Homo sapiens: one gene and its partners. The protein of the gene in region 1 binds, or shares a complex with, the protein of each later gene. Each region holds a gene or a part of one and is shown on either strand. Other genes may lie near its edges.

Region 1 (7,292 bases):
GATTTGCCCGCCTCGGCCTCCCAAAGTGCTGGGATTACAGGCGTGAGCCACCTCGCCCAGCCACAATCTGCTAATTCTTATATGGCTGTGCCACGTGTGGTGGCTAAAAGGTGGTTAATGTTCAATTATGTTTTTCTTAGCATTCAAGTTACAATGCATCTCCAAAACAACCCCAGAACTTGAGTCAAGTAAGTGTGCTATAAAGATGCACAACAGTCTCATCCAGAAGAATACCTTTTTTTCTAGGCATTCTGCAAATTTCAGCTGCTTCAGTAGTTTCTTCTGTTTGTTGCTGAACCGATTATCCTGTTCTGCACTTGTTCCCTGCAGGAAGAGAACCACATCTTAACTAAGGGTTCAAAGTTAAATCCTTACTTTTTATCACCTACGACCTTTATAGCCAAAATAGGGTAACCAAGTAAACACAATACCAAACTAGTTTTCATAGATGAGAAATGCATACTCCTTCCCCAATGTAGCTGATACTTGGAAAACTTGACTGGATTTTTAAATTATCAAGTATATGTTCATCATAAGTCAAACCTAAAACAACAGTATACAGCATAAAGCCAACACCTCCTCATATCCAATGTTAGATTTGATTTGTATCCTTTCACACCTTTTCCTATGCTAATAGATACGTAGGGCTTTTCTGTTTAAATGAGAACACATTGAAGTATTTGAAATTTCATTCTTTTTTGAAAGCCAGTTGCATGCTTGCAAAACTACTGTGGCAATGCATACAAACAGGGTGAAAGGAAAAAAGAACATCCCAGGACTGTGCTGTTAGTCTTCTACAACTTTTAGGAACTTGGAATGAGTGAAGAAGACAGGGTTACCTAAATAAACTCAATTTCAGCAAAGAACCTGGAAAAATGAAAGCTTACAAATACTACCTTAGATCATCGAGTGATCACTAATTATTCTTTTCATTTTGTCATTCCTACTGGCCCAATTAAACACGGAAATAACTGGCTGTGCCATCTGAAATGTACTGATTGGTTCACTGAGTTGGCCACAGTCCCCTGGAAAGCGATCAAAAAAAATTTTGTTTGAGAAGGTAAAAACTGTGCCACTACTTAGCCGTAAGATCGTAAACCAAGTTACCCAGCCTCTCTGAGGATAGTTCCTTCCCTGCTAAAATAGAGGTATAGAAACCTACTCTGCAGGGTTGCTGTGTACATACCAGAAATAACATATGTAAAGTATCTGGCATGTGGAAGAAGTTCATTGAATGGAAGATATAACTTCTATACTACCTGAAATAGTTCATCTGGTTGGCAGGGTACTAGATAATGACCCTAAAATATTTTAACTTGGATCTTAAATCCAGTTAACTCTTGTATTTAAGCAATTGTAGGCTGTGTACTAAAAACTCGCCCCTCTCCCAGACCTTTACCAATACCACAAGCAAACTTCATGTTAAAATTTGCTCATCAATCACCTTACTCTTTTATTTATTTGGACTCCTTTCCACAGAAAATATTTTGACAAAAGTCAGAAAAGGCTTTCACTTGTTTCAAAATACTACTTGCACTGCAGAAAATATTGAATATTTACTACAAAACACTTTGATGGAAATTACAAAATGGACAGTTCATAAGCAGTTTGCAAATTCGATACGCTAATCTGAAACTATCATTCCAAAATAAGTATCTTACTGTTTGCCTAAGAACAGCTGGTTGTTCTTAGGTAAAATACTTGGGGGATAACATTCTAACATGACGAAAAACTCGTTGGCATATTTAAAGCCAATTAAAGAAGGATTTCAATGTCCAATTCGGAGTGTCCAAAGATATTTTTACTAAAGTTCTGGCCCTCCTCCCTTCCAATTTTTCCTTTGAAAACACACAAACTGCAAATTACATGCTCTAAAGAGAAGAGCTAACGTGTATTTCAGAAAACGGATATATTGGCTTAGATCAACTAGTTTCTATACGACTTCATTCTGCATTAACAGTTTGCAAGCCCTGAGAGACCAATGGTGCTCAACTCTAGTCCTGTGTCCCTTCTAGATCTTGATCTAGTACTAATTTCCTACAGGAGGGGACTATGGGACACACAGGCTCCAGCACGAGCCTGATAAAGTGTGGGCCCCGAGAACCAACTACGACGGAGTAACTTCCCTGCCTGCAGGCGATGGGCAGACGACGCTGGCAGAGCCTAGGTAAGAGTTACCTTTCACCAGCGGACTCCAAGAGTAAAACACGATGGTGGCGGGTGGTGAGGGATGTGGAGGGCGGGAAGGAATTGAATCACTCCACAACCTGCCTCCATACCCGCGCATAGTTTTCGTTGCACCCTCTACCCTCACAGAACCTTAAATTCACATTGTCCCAACAAGTTATCTACGTCCCCCTCCCTGAAGGGATATCAAATTGGGCGGGAGCTCCCGCGAACCCTGACCTGGCGCCTCCACGAAGGCTTAGGACCTGGAGGGAGGACGTTGGGGGGCGGGGAGGGCGCTTTTTCAAAAAAAGCCGCTGAATGCTTCTTCCTGTTCTCCCTCCCCTAAGGTGCTCTCCCAAGATGTACCCCCAAACCATATTCTCCCTGCCCTGCCGCCACCAGTGACCTTAGGGCTTTCCTTTGGCCTCCCACTCGGGACTTCCTCCTCCGGCTCCGCTAGGCCCCAGGACCCGGCGGCACGCACGGCGCTCGGCCTGCAGGCCCCGCCAGGCAGGCGGGCAGCGAGGTACCATCCCGGCCCATTCCCGCCGCCATTTTCCGGCCACCGTCGCCGCCGCGTAGGGGGGACCATTCCGGAGGAGGAGACTGCGCAGGGGCGCACCGGTCTCCGCCGCAGCGCACGGGGGGGGGGGGGGTGCGCCGGCTCTAGGAGGAATCCTTAAGATCTCCGAAGCTCCCCTCGCTGGCCACCCTGTGCCAAGCTAAGGTCTCCTACCAGGCCTTACCGAGAAGTCCCTGGCCTCACCCCGGCGCCCGGCGCTTCTACTTACGCGGAAAAATCCCGCGTCCATCTTGCCGCCTCGCTCGGAGATCGCTCCCTATCCCAGGGTACACCGCGCCGCCGCGACGGAGGGCGGGACCGGCGGAGGGAAAGCCGAGCGCCGGGACGCAGCGCGCGTCGTTGCGCCCGCCCCCTCCGGCCGACACGAGGCCGCGCCTGCTCAGTGCGCCGAGAGCCCGCCACGCGTGCGCACGAGCGCCAGCGGGGGCGGGCTTCTGTCAGGCCCTAAACTCCCCGGTAGGTAGTGGAGGAGGCGAACCTGACGACCGCAGCCAATGGGAGCAAAAGGGAAGGCCGTCGAGTCGCCCCGCCCTGCAAGTCCTTTTGTGGCGCGTGACCATCCTTGTTCGCGCAATGTGACGTGACCCATCCTTCGACCCGTAGTGGAAGAGGCTTGGCGTCCTGGAGTTCCATGAAGCGATTGAAGAGAAAGGCTGTTACCTCAGAGTGACGCGGGCGAGGCGGCCCGTGCGCCGACGAGAGGCCTGCGGCTTCCCTCTCGTTGTGAAAGTTGTGATTGTGTAGGTTTTACGCGTTTACCAGACGAGAGAGGATTGTCTGTAAAGCGGTCGAGCCTGGCAGCAGACATGAAATCTGCCTTGTAGCTCAGCTTGCTCAGCCTTTGGAGGAAGCTGGAAGTGTCCAGTAGATGGGTTTCGGTTTCGGCGGCCCGGTAATCACGCCGCTGGGCAGGACGCCCGCCAGAGAGCCGTGGTCCTCGGGCTCTGCCTCGGGCTCTCCCCAGCCCGGGTCTCGGACTCCGAGAAGCACCAGCTTCCTCGCAGCGCCTCGCCTGGCCGCCCTGGTGCCTCTGCTCTGGCTGCGAGGGCCTTGGGTTGGATGCGCACTGCTAGATTTTCTTATTTTGAAAATTATTGGCCGGGCGCGGTGGCTCACGCCTGTAATCCCAGCACTTTGGGAGGCCGAGGCGGGCGGATCACGAGGTCAGGAGATCGAGACCATCCTGGCTAACACGGTGAAACCCCGTCTCTACTAAAAATACAAAAAATTAGCTGGGCGTGGTGGCGGGCGTCTGTAGTCCCAGCTACTCGGGAGGCTGAGGCAGGAGAATGGCATTAACCCGGGAGGTGGAGCTTGCAGTGAGCCGAGATCACGCCACTGCACTCCAGCCTGGGTGACAGAGCGAGACTGTCTCAAAAAAAAAAGTTATTTTTATCTAATAAAGCAGAGATGGGGGTCTCGCTCTGTTGCTGGTCTCGAACTCCTGGCCTCCCAAAGTGCAGGGACTTCAGGCCTGAGCCACCGCGCCCGGCCCCACTCTGCCAGCTTTTTCGCAAGCGCTTCTCGCCCTTCTCGCTTCCCTTTCTCGGAGGGAAAGCCGGCGTCCCTTTCTCAGAAAGGCCTCCTCCGGCCATCTTTTGCATCGTTCCCGCCCCCACACACACTCTCGCCTCCCTTTTCTCTTTTTTTCCATGGCACTTAGCCCACCTGAAAGTATGTGTGTGTTTGCTCTCGTGGCTGGAGACACTAGCTGTGTGCTGGAGACATCCCTGCATCTCCAGCTCAGACTTCTCTCTTGACCGTCCCACGTGCCCCAAGTTGAAATCCTGATTCCTTCGCCCTCCATCCACCAAAACCACAAACCACCTGCCCTTCCCAGGGTCTTCCCTGGCTCCCGCTGACCGCAGTGGCTTTCCTTTGGTGTAGGACGCAAGCGTGTGTTACTCTTGACTCCTTTCCTTTACCTCGGCTTTCAAACCATCAAGAAACCCTCCCTGCTGTCATCGTGGTTCAGGGCACCATCGTCTCTTCCCTGAACTGCGCTAACCCCCTAAGTGGTCTTCCTGCTTCTACCCTGGCCACTCAGCATCTACTCTAAGTGTAGCCGGCAGGGTAGTTCTGTTAGAAAACCTTAATCAGACACTTTTCTCAAAACCTTCCAGCAGCCTCTCATTTTTGTTAGAACAAAAGCCAAAATCCTACCTGATGCACGCTATTTCGTCTTTGATGTAATCTAGAATGCTCTACTTCCAGATATCTTTTTTTTTTTTTTTTGAGACCGAGTCTCGCTCTGTCGCCCAGGCTGAAGTGCAGTGGCGCGATCTCGGCTCACTACAACCTCTGCCTCCCGGGTTCAAGCGATTCTCCTGCTTCAGCCTCCCTGGCAGCTGGGACTACAGGTGCGCACCACCACGCGCGGCTAATTATTGTATTTTTAGTAGAGATGGGGTTTTGCCATGTTGGCCAGTCTGGTCTCAAACTCCCAACCTTCACTGATCCTCCCGCCTCGGCCTCCCAAACTGCTGGGATTACAGGCATGAGCCACCACGCTGACCTACTCCTGGATATCTACTGGGCAAACTTAAAGTCCCCACTGCCCCCCCGCAGATGGGGTCTTGCTCTGTCTGCCCAGGTTGGAGTGCAGTGGCAGGATCTCGGCTCACTGCAACCTCCACCTCTCAGTTTCAAGGAATTCTCCTGCCTCAGCCTCCCAAATTGGGAGCTGGGATTACAGACGCCCGCCACCAAGTCCGGCTACTTTTTTTATCTTTAGTGGAGATGGGGTTTCACCATGTTAGCCAGGCTGGTCTGGGACTCCTGACCTCGTGATCCACCTGCCTTGGCCTCCTAAAGTGCTGGGATTATAGGCGTGAGCCACCGTGCCCGGCCTGGGCAAAGTTTTTACTTTAAAGTTTTTACTCGATGGTCACTCACTGAAGCCTAACCTGACTGCCTTGTTGGAAGTTGCTCGGATATCCTCTCTACATCCTGATGCCCGTTACTCTTTTTTTTTTTTTCATAGCTTTTATCACCTAATATGCATTTAACCTGTTTTTTTTTTTTTTTTTTTTTTTTGAGGCAAGGCCTGGCTCTGTCACCCAGGCTGGAGTGCAGTCACGTGATCTTGGCTCACTGCAGCCTCCGCCTCCTGGCTTTAAGCCATCCTCCCACCTCAACCTCTGGAGTAGCTGGGACTACAGGCCCGCACTACCATTCCCAGCTAATTTTTGTATTTTTTGTAGAGATGGGGTTTTGCCATGTTGCCCAGGCTGGTCTCGAACTCATGAGCTCAAGGGATACCTGCCTTGGCCTCCCAAAGTGCTGGGATTACAGGTGTGAGCCACTGCGCCCGGCCGTTTAACCTGTTTTTAATGTTTGTTTATTGTCTGTTCCCCACACTAGAATGTAAGTGCCCTAAAGTCAGGGCTTACTGTTTTGTTCATTCATGTGTCACTAGAAAAGTGACACATGGCATGGGTTCAATAAACATTTGTTCAGTGAATGAAGGCTTTGTCAGACGGCCAAAGACAGGGAAGTGACAGGCCTCCACAGAACAAGCCACTTGACCAGATGGGAACTATGAAATCACAACACCCCACATCTCCCTGACTATTCTCTATGGTTCTGATTAGTCATTCTGTTTTGGGCTTCCTTCACTGTCTCTGTCTGTTTGCTGTCAATCCTATAAATGTTGTTTTTTCTGGTAGTTCTGTCATTGACTACTTTTTCCCTCAACAAAGGTGCCCTCTCTGACCTCTCGGTTTTGATTACCTTTCATATTTCAAACCTGTGTATCTCAGGCACAGGCCTGCTCCAGACCTATATTTTCAACTTCCTGCTCACCTATTCACTTGGATGTCCCATAGGCACCTCACACTCAACATACCCTAAACTGAATTCATCTTCATCCACTTGCCTTCAACCTTCTGGTTTCCCATTCTCAATGAATGAGCCCACCTTTCTTTCTATCATGATTCTTCTCTCTTCCTCACACTCTACAACCAACTCTTGCCTTTTCACCTCTCTTAATAGCTTATGCCTCCCTCTCCTCATCCGTTACTTCTAAGTTGCAGCCACAATAAACTACAGATGCTTGTCTGATTATGAACAGATTTAGATTTCGAATGGCAATTTATTTGTCTATATATTGGTAAGCCTAAAATGACTAAGAGATGATTCAAATGGCACCTCTTCATCAAGCCTTTTCTGAACAACCTTCCAAAAAGGACACCCTCAATCCCCTCACTCTGTCTTACCTTTTTCTTTCTTTTCTTTTGGAGAGAGGGTCACTCTGTAACCCAAGCTGGAGTGCAGTGATGCAATCACAGCTCATTGCAGCCTCCTTAATTTCCCCAGCTCAAGCAATCTTCCTGCTTCAGCACCCTGAGTAGCTGGGACTACAGGTGTGTGCCACCACACCCAGCTAATTTTTAAATTATTTTTTAGAGACGGGGGCTTTATTGTATTGCCCAGGCTGGTCATAAACTCCTGGGCTCAAGTGAGCCTTCCACCTCAGCCTCCGAAAGTGCTGGGGTTATAGTCGTGAGCCACCATGCCTGGCCTATTTTTCTTTTCTTTC
Region 2 (6,986 bases), on another chromosome or scaffold:
TGTTAGCTTGGCCACAGAAAAATTCCCTACCTTGGCTATAGGGCTTCAGTGAAGGAGATAATAAGAAAACAGTTTTGTGCCAATTACATCAGTAACATACGTTGCCACTTGTGCCAGTTCAGCTCTTCATGGAGAGTGGTGAATCACTGACATGAATGTTGGAGGTAATTTCAACAACTGTGAATGGGAAAAGCAGTTTTTTCAAAGAAAGTAAATTTCACTGAAACCTGTGATCAAATATTATTTCTATAATAACAACTAAGAGTAAGATTTTCCTAAATGCCTACATTTCATTGCATTACCTACATAATGGTATACGCTTATACACAATGCTATGGAAACACGGGTGAAGCACATGATCATAAAACAGACAAGGCTGATTTTTATGTGTGGTTTGCAGAAAGCAGCCTTGTTACTTTATAATCATACCTTGTCATAATCACTAGCAGGACCACCCCAAGAAATGCCAAACTGAATCCATTAAACCTAAAATTAAAGAGCCTAACATAATACTTGTCCTCCTTGATGATAACCTTGAAAAGTTTAGATTAGCCCTATTTTCCTTTAATACCCTGTCTGGATCGATCATCTAAGAAATTATCTTACGATTTTCTGTATCTGTATTTTCTAATGACACTTGCATTGTACTTTTACAGCACTGTCACACCTATTATCTCAATTATTGCTGGGTTTAAACAGTTTATAGCTTGCCATCTAGCTTAATGGCACAATTTAACATTATTATACTTTGAAGCACTATTTTGAATTGAAAGAAGGTTAACATATCTATAACACTGGTCTAAGTTTAAGAGAATTTTAATGAGGCCTTAAAAAATCACTTTTGTCCCCTTTCTTAAGTAGCACATTTTCATGTACTGCTTAAAGTTTTATGAGGGCACAGACTATGACACTGTGTCCTCCAGTGTGCCCATATCACACAGGTGCCCAAAAGGCTTGCTCAAGTAATGAAATGAGCAGTGATAACAGGTCAACTTTGGGTGCAGCTGTGTGGTATAAAGATCACTAGAGCTGACTCGGCCTATCAGGATGCCTAGGCAATCTACTGTGTAGGTTTATCTTTCGCTGCTGGCCTCTTAGATGTTGACCAGGCTTCAGCCACAGACCTTCCCTTCACATTCTACACACCATCTAAGCAGAGTGCTCCACTCCCATAGCCTTACCTCCTATTATGTGTGTGGGTAACACCCAAATCATTGTCTTTGACTCTGACTTCTTTCCTAAGCTACAAATTATATCTCTTACTATTAACTATTTGCATTCCTATGTCTGACTAACCTCAACACAACAAGCCCCAGACTGGATGTCATCATCATCCCCTTAACCCCTGCCCCTTGTGAGGTGTTGTCATGTCAGTAAACAGCCCCACCCAATTGCTTAACAGTAAAACCCAGGTAAACCTCATTTCCTCTTTTACCTACCCACACTGAATCAATCACCAACTCCTAGTGACTCTACCACCAAAAATGTATCTTCAATTTATCCACTTCTCTCCTTACCTATTGAGACCACATCTCAGCCACACATCATTATAACTCACCAGAATTACTCCTAACTGGTAAACTTTGTCTCCAATCTACTTTCTAGCCAGAATTATCTTTCCAAAATGTGAATCTGCTTTAAAATCCTTAAATGGCTTCCTGCCATCTGTAGGATAATGCCAAACCTCTTGTCATGGCCTACAGGTCCTTAAAGAGCTGGAAACTACCTTGTAAGTTATCCTATACGATGGCAAAATGAATGAAGTACACAGTCTAGAGGAACCAGACTGACTTCTTGCTTTCCAGCTGTCTCATAATAGGCAAATTACTTGATTTCTTTGTCCCTCAGTGTCCTCATCTGTAAAATGGGAATATTAATACTCATTTCACAGTGCAGTTGTGAATATTAAATGAGATAGAATACAATGTTTGATATAGTATCTGACATATTTGACTTATAAATATTAGTCAATATTAGCTACAGTTACTATCTACTTAATTTCTCACTTACCTCCCATTTGTATTTGAGTTCTATCCACAGAAAACATCTTTCATTCTGACATATTTGACACATAAATATTAGTCAATATTAGCTACAGCTACTACCTCTGTACTTAATTTCTCACTTATCTCCCATCTGTATTTGAGTTCCATCCATAGAAAACATCTTTCATTTCCTCTTTTCACATATTTCCTCTTCCTTTACGTATCCAGTTCCTCCGACTGCAGTCTCCTCTCCCTTCAAGCCACCCCTCCTACAATTCAGATCTCCTCCTAAGTGCTACCTCCTTTGGAAAGTCCTTCTGCCCATCCTGTATGTGTTTGGTGCCCTTACTTTGTGCTAAGGTCTTGTATTTTCCTTGCCATGGCACTTGTCCCACTTTCTGTAAATTTCTCTCTCTTCACTGCTAAATTCTAAGTTCTGTGTGAAGCGTAACCATGTCTACCTTGCTCACCACTGTATTTCCAATGCCCAGTACCAGTGCCTGGCACACAGTAGGCTTAATAAAGAGTGTACATTTCCTCTCTCACAGCTCCAGATGTACTCCTCCGCAAACTTCAGTTAGTACAAAAGCACAGTGTTCCAATAACAGCTATCTGTAGAAGGAGGTTCAAAAAGGCTGCCACAGAATAAAGAACCTGGTCAAATAATACTGGGAAGTGCAGGTTTAAACAAAGTTAGGGTTCTGAACCATAGTAATTCTATAGTTCATAGTAATTCTATAGCAATTCATAGTATTCTATTCTAATAGAATAGAATCTTTTCTATTACTAAAGTGCGCTGGGAATTTCCAAGTTGGGAGGTGGGGTGGAGAAGTGTGTATTTCTGAAAATGTCTCCTGCAATCAGTGTTCTGCAGTGGCAAAGCTGGTTTGAGGAGATGCTTTCCGCTACTAGAACTTCCAAGTAAGCTGGTAGTTGAGGACGAGAAAATCTTTTAAGTAATTATTCTGCAGAGTTCACCGTTTTTAGGTCAGTAACTTCTGGACATAGAATTTGAGAGTTAGAAGAAATCTTATATATAATTCAACAAAGCTCCTTCTTTTTATAAGGAAACTGAGGCCCAGAAGCACAAAGCGACCAATCTATGGCCACGGAGCAGCTACATACAACAGGAAGAGCTAGGAGTAGAACCCGCACACCCGGTGGGTCCTAGCGACTTCTAAGACAAACGATGCCTCCGGTTACCTGGGTCGGCCAAGTGTTCCCACTTCAAGTTTTAGTTTTAAGCCATACCACAGTTAAGGTAGTTTTTCTCGGCCGCTTGCCCCCTTAGGCCTACAGTTACAGTCTCTCCCTCCTCCCTCCCTTCCACAATACACTTTCCCTGTAATCCCAAGCAGCTGGGGCTTGGCTCCTGGGGGGAAGATAGTTATTTTCTTTCCTTCAGAGTTTATGTTTGGAGTGTAAACTTTTTCATGTAAACAAAACAAACCTGTGAATTTTAAGGCCTCCGCCTAAATCCCCATGGGCGCTGCTCCGTACACGCCGCACCCTACCCTACCCTCCCTTGCGCTCCCTTCGGAGCTCGGACGCAGAGGCCCTGTAATTGCTCCTTACCTGGGACTGCCATGACGGTGGTAAGAGGGGTAACTCGAGCCTCTGGCTTTCGAAAAGGCGCTTGCTTCCCGCCAGCTGTGAGAACAAGGCACAGTCAAAGCGGCGTTTTCCTTCCCCCAGCGCAGCAGCACCCTCGCTACGGTCGGGAAGGGCCTGTACGCCTCTAGCGACGGCAGAACCAGTAGATGCGGATGCAGTTTCCGGACGAGTCATATTGCAGAAGACACATGGTCCGAACCATTACTGATAGTTTTGGAGGGGGAGTTAGTTTGATCTGCACACGAGAGTAGTGTAAACACCGCCAACACTTATGAAGTGTCCCTTCTAATATTGTAATACAAATAACATAAATAACATTAAGCTATGGTAACTTTACGGACTTTTCTCGTTCCCTGGAGTACATTGGAATAACCCTTCTCAGGGTTAGCGGTGCTCGGGTCCGGTAACAACATGGCGGCGTCCGTGAGGGGCTCCTTTGGGCAGGGGTAGTGTTTGGTGTCCCTGTCTTGCGTGATATTGACAAACTGAAGCTTTCCTGCACCACTGGACTTAAGGAAGAGTGTACTCGTAGGCGGACAGCTTTAGTGGCCGGCCGGCCGCTCTCATCCCCCGTAAGGAGCAGAGTCCTTTGTACTGACCAAGATGAGCAACATCTACATCCAGGAGCCTCCCACGAATGGGAAGGTGAGAGCCTCATCTAGGGAACTTGGGGTCCTGGGATCCCCAAAGTGAGATTTCCCGGATTTGGGGTGGGGAGTGGGTTTCAGGATCTCGTGGTAGGAAGAGACCACGAGAAGTGTTGTCTTTACTCCTGCATGTGGACAATGTTGCATCGAAACACTGATGTTGGTACTTTTCAGGATGTACTTGAAGAAGTCAAGTGGAGATTTCTCTACCTACCAGCATTCCGGTCCTATTTAATGCTTTAACCCAACTCATGCAGCCGATTTCTGGGGTCTTAGGTTTTTAAACAGACATTTTTGAGTTTGATATATTCTTTGCTTAACTAAGGTCATTCATTCTCCATTTCTTCTACAATCATTAATTGAACGCCTGCGAGGCACTGGGCACTGTACTAGGCGCCGGAGATACAAAGATGGATGGGTAAGGTAGTTGTTTTCCCGGAAAAGCTTATAGTTTAGTTTGTGAGACAGACAGGTAAACAAAAGCCTGTATGTCTGATAAGCGTGCTTGTGGAGAAGAGACCAGGTTGCTATGGCGGTACTGAGTAGTGAACAACTGGGGAAGTTAGGAAAAGCCTCATGGAAAAGATATCTTTTGAGCTGGTTTTAAAACCTGAGATGACTGTCAGTCAGAGAAAGTGGGAAATGGGGACTATTACCACATTAGAATGGGGAAAGGTTTCTCTGATTGATTTGATGGCTAATGTATGCCAATTCCCATCCAAGATGTTTGTATGCTGTACAAGGCAGAAGAGTCTGTTGTGGAATAAGTGTCACCTGAATTCTTAAATTGAGACCTAGCTTATATCACATATGAAATTTGATGAATCAGCATATTGGAGAAAATGAGATTGGAAGTATATAGTTGAATTAAGATAAGCTAAATTTACACAACATACCATCCTGTTTGTTACATGATTGCATCATAAATAATTTATACAGTCTTTTATTCATTGACATTTGATAATGTAATGAGAGCAATTTAAAAGTGAAACCAAAAATGCTGTAATTCCCAGCAAAAATGTAATGGATATTTTATGGGCAGACCAATTCTTTCAATTCTTTGTTTGAACTTCTCCTGGGCATTGTAGATTAGTATGTCCATCCCACCCCTCACCTATCTTATTTAATATCAATGTGAAAACCCAAAATACCTACCTCCTCCTATTTCCAAATGTTTCTTGAGGGCAATATCACCCCCAGTTAATAAACACTGGTAGAGATTGAATAGATTTACCATCCTGCCAGACAGGGCCTTCACACTTGCTGTTCCTCTGTCTAATCAAGTGTTGACCTTAGCAAAGAGCCCTTTCTTATCTACTTTCTATGAAATAGCAAACTTCAATCATGCCTTGCATCCCAGCAGTCTCTGGCCCCCTTAACCTTTTTAGTTTTTTTCATGGTATTTATTAATTATTTAGTATTACTGTATCCTTCCTCCTACCTTCCCCCTATAGAATGTAAGGAACATAAGGGCAGAGACAAGCATCTGGAACAGTACTTGATACATGATAGAAGGAGTTCAGATAGGTATTGAATAAATGAATGGATGGATGAATTAATACTATATTTTTCTTAGTTTTTGAGAAGTATTAAGCATCAGTGAGTTTGAGGTTATACTGCTGGTCAAGGACAGACTTAATTGCTTTATTCTAAAGCAAGATTTGACATGGTCATATAGATGAAAAGCTTTAACAAGGATACATTCCTGAATAGATTATTCATTCAACAAATAATGATTGAGCAAATCAATTGCCAGGCTCTATGCTAGGTTTTAGGGAGACAATGGAAAGAAAACACAGCATTGACTCAGTTGTCATGAGTTAGTTGAGTGAAGTATACATTGACTGAATAATCATGCAAATAAATGTTTAATTACAAAATGTGATAAATACTATCTTCTGAACAGAAATAGGCTGAATGATAACATAAGGGCCCAAGTTTTCATCCAAAAACAGCTTGGGACTTTTTCCAGCATAAGGCTCATCAAAGATATTAAAGCTTCTAAGTTCTGTAAGGTTAAGAGTGTGGACAAAAATTTGGTCTGTGAAGAATTTGAAGCACATGTAATAAGTCTGTTCAACGAATGTTTATTGCCTTTACTATCTAATGGTACATTAGGTGCTGAAAGCGTACAGAGACATTCAGAGTAAATGGGACAAAATTCCTCCCTTCAAAGAACTTAGTATCAGCTTGGGAAGTAATTGATACATGATACCAGTGCTTGGTCCCTGGTTGTCCATAAATGTTCTGTGTTTTGCTGTAACCCTAGCCCCTGAAGATGAGGCAAAGAAATGTAGTACTTGACAGAAAGTTTTTAAGCATAAGAGGTAATTCCCTGAAGATGAAATTTCCACATATTATGATCACTTATTCTAAATTGTGTCTGGCTTCTTCACTTAGTGTAATGTTGCTTTCAAATGATAGGGGTCTGTCTTCCTGTTGTACACACTTAGTTTTTAAATATCTTGAAAATCAAAATGGCTTTATAAGTATATTTGCATATATGTTTATAAGAAACATGATATTATCAAGGTATTAATTGGGAATTTTAAGAGAAAGAGCCAAGGAGGCCTACAAAGTAGTGATGACCAAAGAGAATGTATGGCCAGAGGAGGAAGGAGCCATATACCTTCTTTATTAATTCAGTAGCTTATTAATGAAAAGATTAAGAAACCCTGGTGAGCAAAGTGGCCCGATTATATATGCATTCTTTTTACTAGGTGTAAGTTGCCTGTGGCCA
Region 3 (6,990 bases), on another chromosome or scaffold:
TCAAAAAAAAAAAAAAAAAGAAAGAAAATAAAATGAGTGCTTTTCTCTGTTTGTTTTTCAGAAATGGGAGGTGGTGGGGGGAGTCTCACTATGTTGCCCAGGGCTGGTCTTGAACTCCTGGGCCTCAAGCATCCCAAAGTGCTGGGATTACAGGTGTGAGCCACCACACCTGGCCCCAATTAGTGCTTTAAAAGCTCTCTAAACCCTTACATCACAAAGAATATCCCTCCTCCCCCTCCAGAAAAGAAAGGGGTGGCTGGACAGTATCGACCTCACCAGATGTGCTACACCAAGGCCAGAAAGAGCCGCTGAAGTGGCTTGGACATGGGCCATGCCAGCTGCACGTGGAAGGCCATTCCTCCCGGCACTCATTTCCAGTGTTTCATATCTGCTTGTCCTGGGTACAGGAACCAGGGCATGTTTCAGAGGTTCAGAGCCAAGTACTTTTGGGGTCTGGGTACTGCACAGAGAGGGCCCAGGCACTTGTTCTGCTTGCCGTGTGCCCCACCATGCCTGCGCTGAGGACCAGCCTCAGTCCATCCTGCCCAGAAGGCTGGGAGCACACATGGGGCCTGGAAGCCAGAAGGCCTCTCAAGAGACCCTGCTTGCAGCCCTGTGGGAGGGGTTGGATGGGGGCTGGGGTCTCCAGATAAAAAGGTAATTCGAGAAACCCTCCCAGGCAGCTGGGAGGTGGGAGGCTATGGCATTAACCCCAGGGATTGTCCTTCCTGAAGGTCTGGTCTCCCTCTGGAGGGCAGGATGCTTTTGCAGACATCATCCTCACCCCCCTACCCTGTTCCCATCCTCCCTAGCACCTGTCCTGGCTGGTAATTGTCTAGTTATTTGTAATGTAAGCTCCAGGAAGCCAGTGTGCAAATGGGAGGTGCTCCACTCACCAAAGGCTTCCCAGTCTTGGGCCCCAGGCCAGGGGGGTCTGGAGGAAGGCTTGCACCACAGGGTCCTCCACCAGGCCATGGAACTGGAAGCTGAAGGCCCACACAAGGCCACTGCCTGGGAGAACAAGCATAGGCAAGTGTGCCCGTCATGGACTGTCACAGAGCGGAGGGAAAAGAGGCCACGGGAAGGACCAGCCTTGGAAGGCCCAACAAAGGAGTTGTGATGTCAACCTGAGGGTGTCTGGAAGAGTTTTAAGCAGTTCAGAAGTTTGCATTTTAGGAACATCACTCCGAGGTGACAGCCGCTAGGATGTCAGCCATGGCTGTCTCTGGGGGTGGTGCCCCTGTGTGCTTTTTTTCTTTTTGCTGATTTGTATATTTCCTGCAGTGAATGTGGTTTACCTGTGCATGTCACTTTCCTAGGGCTGCCATAAGTCACCACGAACTTGGTGGCTTCAAACCACAGAAGTGGGTTCCCCTACAGCTCTGGAGGCCAGAAAGTGGAGACCAAGGTGTGGACAGGGTTGTGCCTCCTCCAAAGGCTCTGGGAGAGGATCTGCAGGGCCTCTCCCAGCTTCTGGCTCCTCCTGGAGATCCCTGGCATGGGCACCGCTCCGAATCTCTGCCTGGGTCTCCTACGGCCTCTTCCCCCGGGTGCCTGTGTCCTCTTGTCTTCTTGTAAGGATGTCAGTCATTGGATTTACGGCCTACCCTAAATTCATGATGATTTCATCTTCAGATCTTTAACTCAATTACATCTGCAAAATCTCTTATTCCAAATAAGGTCACCTTCCGAATGTCTAGGTGGTTGTGAAGTTTTGGGGCACCACCGTCCACCACACTACAGTGAATAAAAAAATAAAGTTTAAAGGGAAACTAAAAAATCATTCTAGGGCTGGGTGCCATGGCTCACACCTGTAATCCCAGCACTTTGGGAGGTTAAGGGGGGAGGACAGTTTGAGCCCAGGAGTTCAAGACCAGCCTGGGCAACACAGGGAGACACAATCTCTACAAAAAACTCCACCTCTACTAAAAATAAAAAAATGAGCTGGGTGGTGGCGTGCGCCTGTAATCCCAGCTACTTGGGAGGCTGAGGTACAAGAATTGTAGTGCGTGGAGATCGTGCCACTGCACTCCAGCCCGGGGTTAGGAGTGAGACTCTGTCCCAAAAAAATAAAATAGACAAAAGACACGAAGAGAAATTTCTCCAAAGATGTACAAACGGCCAACAAGCACATCAAAAGATTCTCAGCATCATCAGTCATTAGGGTACTGCAAACCATGTTTTGTCACTATTCACGGGCATTAAATGTGCTGACTCACGCACAAAACATTCCATAAAGAATATCAGTGGGGGTACAGGAAAGGGTCTCACTGGAGGTGCTGGGGTCTTTAACCAGAAAGGCAAAGCCTTTGCCACTTTACTATGCCACTCCAGAGTTGCGGCCGGCTTACAGAAGCACCGTCCATAGATGCAGAGTTCAGACACTCCAATCTGCGATCAGAGCTCCTGCAGGAGATGGGGGTGGTGGGGGGGAGGGTCTCCCGGCTCTAGCATCTGAGATAAGTACATCCTCCCACGGGCAAGTGAAAAACAAATCTTAAAGCCGGATACGGGCCGGGCGTGGTGGCTCACGCCTGTAATATCAGCACTTTGGGAGGCTGAGGTGGGCAGATCACCTGAGGTCAGGAAATCGAGACCAGCCTGACCAATATAGTGAAGCCCCGTCTTTACTAAAAATACAAAAATTAGCCAGGCGTGGTGGCACACGCCTGTAATCCCAGCTACTCGGAAGACTGAGACACGAGAATCACTTCAACCTGAGAGACAGGTTGCAGTGAGCCGACAACACACCATTGCACTCCAGCCTGGGTGACAAGTGCGAAACCACGTGAAAAAAGAAAGAACAACAACAACAACAAAAAACAAGGGCCAGATAGGGTGTCATGCACGGGTAGTCCCAGCTACTTGGGAGGCTGAGGTCGGAGGATCGCTTGAGCCCCAAATTCGAGAACAGCCTGGGCAAAACCCTGCCTCTTAAAAACACCCCCAAATCGTAATAACAAATATAAATCCTTGCACTCAAATGGACAGTTCATTACGTGGTACCGCGTCCTGTTGCGGATCAAGGCCACCTGAGTTGGTTAGGACAGCTAAGCGGGACGTCCAGGGCTGCTCGCCAGCGGTGGGTCTAGATATGAACTTGTGCTTGAGCAGCCCAGCGTCTTACAACTCTGCTGTGAGGACGGCTGGCTGATTATCAGGCCCAGAATCACGGGCTTAGAAACATTAACAGGAAGTACGGTACCGAAAAGTGGAAACTTTAAGGTGCTTATTATTTTCCTCCTGCCTTGTTCCTGTATGTGCCGCTTCACCGGTATCACGTCCTGGGTCTGGTGGGACCCCGGCCTGGCTGCCCTACCGGAAGCTAAGAAAACTCCTCCCCCAGGGGTGGCCGTCGGGCCTCAGCCCGGTCTACAGCGGGAGAACGTGGCCCATGCTACGGGTAACTGGTTGGGCCCCTGGTGCAGGTCTAGGGCCTGCAGCCAGGCTCGGGGCCTCCGGGGGTGCCCGCTGGCTGGGGTCTGAGGCGGCTTCTCTCGGGTACGGGAAGGCGGACTGCTGTGCAGCTGCGGGCTCGCTCGGGAAACCCAAAGTCACACGAAAGCGGCAGCACCACCGCGGCTGGGATATCGTCTCCCAACATGGGGAGACAAAATGGCCGCCACGCCCCGAGCCGAAATTACATCCGGGCTCCGCGACACGCCCGAACCACAACTCCCAGAATGCTCTGCATCGACAGCGGGAGACGAGACGCGCTCGGGCGTCGCTTTGCTGCCGCTAGGCCCTGTGCTCCTCCCCGCAGCGGAAGGCCTACGAATACGCGGTGTCTTACGTCGCTTCCTCCGTTCTTCGTTGCACTGGCCAACGGGACGCTTAGTCTTTCGGCAACGGGGTGAAACCTTCCTTGTGCCTGAAAAAACGGTACTTCGCGGTGTGGCTTCGGCGCCTGCGCAAAAGGCCGCGGGGCGCACTCCAGTTCCCGGCAGGCCCCGCGACGCGCGTTTGCGTGCTGACGCACGCAGTTAGTCGTGCTGACGTGCAGCGCGGCCCAGGCGGGGTGCGAGTGGCGCAGTTGGAGCCCGTTGCGGCCCCTGAGGAAGCGAGGAGGCGTCGGCGTCGGCTGAGGCGGGCGGACCGGCGAGGCGAGGCGGCGGCCCCAGGCCCGAGGGACTCGGGAGCTCGAGCAGCGGCGGCGGCAAGACCTCTCCCCCTCGGAGGCGGCGGGCGGAGGCGGCGGGTGAGAGGGTGAGGGAGCCAGCGAGCCGGGTGGGGGAGGGGCGGCGGCCCCGGCGCGAGGCCAAAGCGCGCGGAGAACTGCCCAGGCCGCCGAGCTCCTCCGCGCGCACGCGCGCTCGACGCCCTTCGCTGGCGCGGACGCCCTCGCCTCCCTTCCCCCTTCCCGCCGTTCCTGTCGCGCGCGGGCTTCACCCCCCCCCGCCCCTCCCCCATGACAACGGCGTTCGCAGCCGCCTGTACTCGGGTTCGCGAGCGCCCTTGGTGAGGGGGGAGGGCGCGCGCCTCGGCTTCACTCCTCCCCCCAACATGTGCCGCCGAGGTGGCCTTCCTGCAGCTGCCGTTTTCGGCCCTTAAGTGGCGGGGAAGGGGCGGCGGCGGGGGGCTTGCTCCTGGACCCTTGCCCCCGGTTCCAGATCTCCTTTCCTCGGGCTTCTCTTCGGCGTTGGGCTGCCCGTGTCGGGGGCCTCCCAGACTGCGGGACGCCGCGCAGCCCCCTCCCCCATTCCGCAAGGCCGAAAATAGGCCCCCGGCGCTGCGGGGAGGGCCTTGAACTTCGTGGGCCGGATTTAAATGGTTTAGGATTCCCGGCTATCAGCCTTTGAGTTGTTAGTGGCGGGGAGAAACCCCAAATCTTAAAAACTGTGAAGAAAGTGAACGTGTTCAGTTTACATTTGTAAGGTAGACCGTGCGTTCCCTTTTTACACTTTTTCAACGTCTCCCGAGAATTCGTGTTCAAACTAAGGAGGCTTTTGGAGACCTTCGTTGGGAAGAAAACGCCAGACTCATATATAAGTTTTCTGGTTGGTTTCAGGCGTTCTTTGGCACACAGCTCTTCTGAAGCTTGGTTTCCACTCGGCTTCAGTTAGGACGAATCTGGATCAGAATTTCAGAGTGTTGTGTTGTCTTTCATCCTAAGTGCGTGGGCTTAGGGCTCTTCTAAAGCTACTATTTTAGCTTTCTGGGTTCTTTGTGTCCACTCAGCCGCTCTGGAGCGCCCCGGTGCTGAGCTGGCTGTGCTTGCTGATGTCCATTTTTTTCGACAACCCTTGTCTCCCCTTTTTCTCCCCTTTTGGTACCGTTTTCTTTTTTGCATATTTTACTGTTGAATTCAAATATATCTTTCTACTTCATTGTTAGCTTACCACTCGGATAATTTCCCAACAGAAAAGGGTGTTTTTGTCTTCCTTTGTACTTTTTACTTTCTGCTTTTAACTTGGGTAACTTTTGCATATCCACTGTCTATGGCCCCCACTTTAAGAGTTTTGTAATATCGTTTGGTTTGGTGATTTGTGTGTGGTGTTGATCTTCCTACTTTCTGTGTCTTAACACACCCCTTAGATGCCGTGGGGTCGTCGTCTTTTTTTGTGGGGTGGACTAGGTGGCTCATTCCCTAAAAGTTCTCCGAAACATTGTGACCTAATATCCTTTGCTTAGCACCTACTGGTTTTTCTTTTTTTTTTTTTTCCGAGACGGAGTCTAGCTCTGTTGGCAGGCCGGAGTGCAGTGGCGCGATCTCGGCTCACTGCAACCTTCCGCCTCCCGGGTTCAAGCGATTCTCCTGCTTCAGCCTCTGGAGTTGCTGAGATTACAGGCAATCGCCGCCGCCCAGCTAATTTTTGTATTTTTGGTAGAGATGGAGTTTCACCGTGTTGGCCAGGCTGGTGTCAATCTCCTGATCTGGTGATCCGCCCACCTCGGCCTCCCAAAGTGCAGGTGTTACAGGCGTGAGCCACCGTACCCGGCCTGGTTTTCCTTTCTTAAGGAGTGGGGGGATTTTTGTGTGAGGTGGTATGGAAGTGTGGGTGAATGGTTAAGCTGAAGAATTAAGTGCAGGTCAAAAACATGCTGCAGGGGAAGCAGAAATTAAGTGGGGTAGGGGAGAGGCGAAGAAGGACCTAGTTTTAAACCGTGAGGAGGATTGGTACTAGAAGATGAAAATGAGGATTGGGGTGTAGAGAAATTGATTTTTTGAGCCATACAGTTTTTCATTTTTTCCTGGATTTCTGCTTGCCTTATCCAGGTTTAGCCTCTTCTGTCACCTTCTGCTTTCAATATTGGGTCTGCTACTGGGCTTGGGTAGGGACCCATCCTTAGGCGCATGCGCTAGTATATTTTTCCAAACATTTGTATGATGCTTCTTCATTCTGGAATTTTCTAAATGCATCCTTCCCTTCTATCCAGTTCTTTTACATCTTTGATTACTCTCTCCGCTTTACGTATTCCTTAGGGTTTTTTCTTAGTAGTATTTTCTCATATATGCATGTTCTAGGAAACTATCTTGGAGAGGATGAGGGTGAGAAAGAGAGTATATGTAATAGGAGAAAGGAATAGAGTATGTGTAGCCAAGGAATCTAACCAGGAAAGCTGGGACTTGAGAATTTTTCAGAATCACGTTAGGGTTGGGACAAGTTGAAAGGCTAGAACCTGGGAGGAGGCATGGGGTTAACACAGGAGAGAAGGAAGAGGCAGGGCTGAGAGAGAAAAACTAGGAAGTGCTATCCAGGGGATTGGTGGGGAAAGCCAACGGTTGGACATTAATGAAAGTGGGGTGTAGAGAGGGTTTCTACATAGATTTAGGGCAAGGTATATGGAGAAGGTATGGGAACGGTTGGAACAGAGGAGGCTGGTTTGATGTGTTTAAATAGAGCAGAGTTGAAAACAGGTAATATTTGACAGCTGGCAAGACAGGGAGGAACTGCAAATTGTTGTAAATCCTATTGAGAGGAAGGAAATTGAAGGAATAAAATATCAGGATAGTTGATAGGATCTTTAAATATTTGGAATCAAGGAAAT

What was found. The genes of interacting proteins can lie anywhere in the genome.
Region 2: SRRM1 (region 1) and CWC27 share a complex: the UniProt entries of both Homo sapiens proteins name them as parts of the minor spliceosome.
Region 3: SRRM1 (region 1) and SRRM2 share a complex: the UniProt entries of both Homo sapiens proteins name them as parts of the minor spliceosome.

Annotation. Positions count from the first base shown.
Region 1 is NC_000001.11:24,639,016-24,646,307, reverse strand, and holds the start of SRRM1 (serine/arginine repetitive matrix protein 1), read right to left. Parts: upstream 3,007-7,292; 5' UTR 2,982-3,006; coding exon 2,961-2,981; intron 2,750-2,960; exon of another isoform or gene 2,576-2,749; intron 325-2,575; coding exon 235-324; intron 1-234. UniProt on the Homo sapiens protein: Part of pre- and post-splicing multiprotein mRNP complexes. As a component of the minor spliceosome, involved in the splicing of U12-type introns in pre-mRNAs. Involved in numerous pre-mRNA processing events.
Region 2 is NC_000005.10:64,764,945-64,771,930, forward strand, and holds the start of CWC27 (spliceosome-associated protein CWC27 homolog), read left to right. Parts: upstream 1-3,985; 5' UTR 3,986-4,202; coding exon 4,203-4,244; intron 4,245-6,986. Other genes in the region: protein SREK1IP1, read right to left, coding at 3,561-3,573. UniProt on the Homo sapiens protein: As part of the spliceosome, plays a role in pre-mRNA splicing. Probable inactive PPIase with no peptidyl-prolyl cis-trans isomerase activity. As a component of the minor spliceosome, involved in the splicing of U12-type introns in pre-mRNAs.
Region 3 is NC_000016.10:2,748,649-2,755,638, forward strand, and holds the start of SRRM2 (serine/arginine repetitive matrix protein 2), read left to right. Parts: upstream 1-3,989; 5' UTR 3,990-4,198; intron 4,199-4,257; exon of another isoform or gene 4,258-4,408; coding exon of another isoform or gene 4,409-4,458; intron 4,459-6,990. UniProt on the Homo sapiens protein: Required for pre-mRNA splicing as component of the spliceosome. As a component of the minor spliceosome, involved in the splicing of U12-type introns in pre-mRNAs.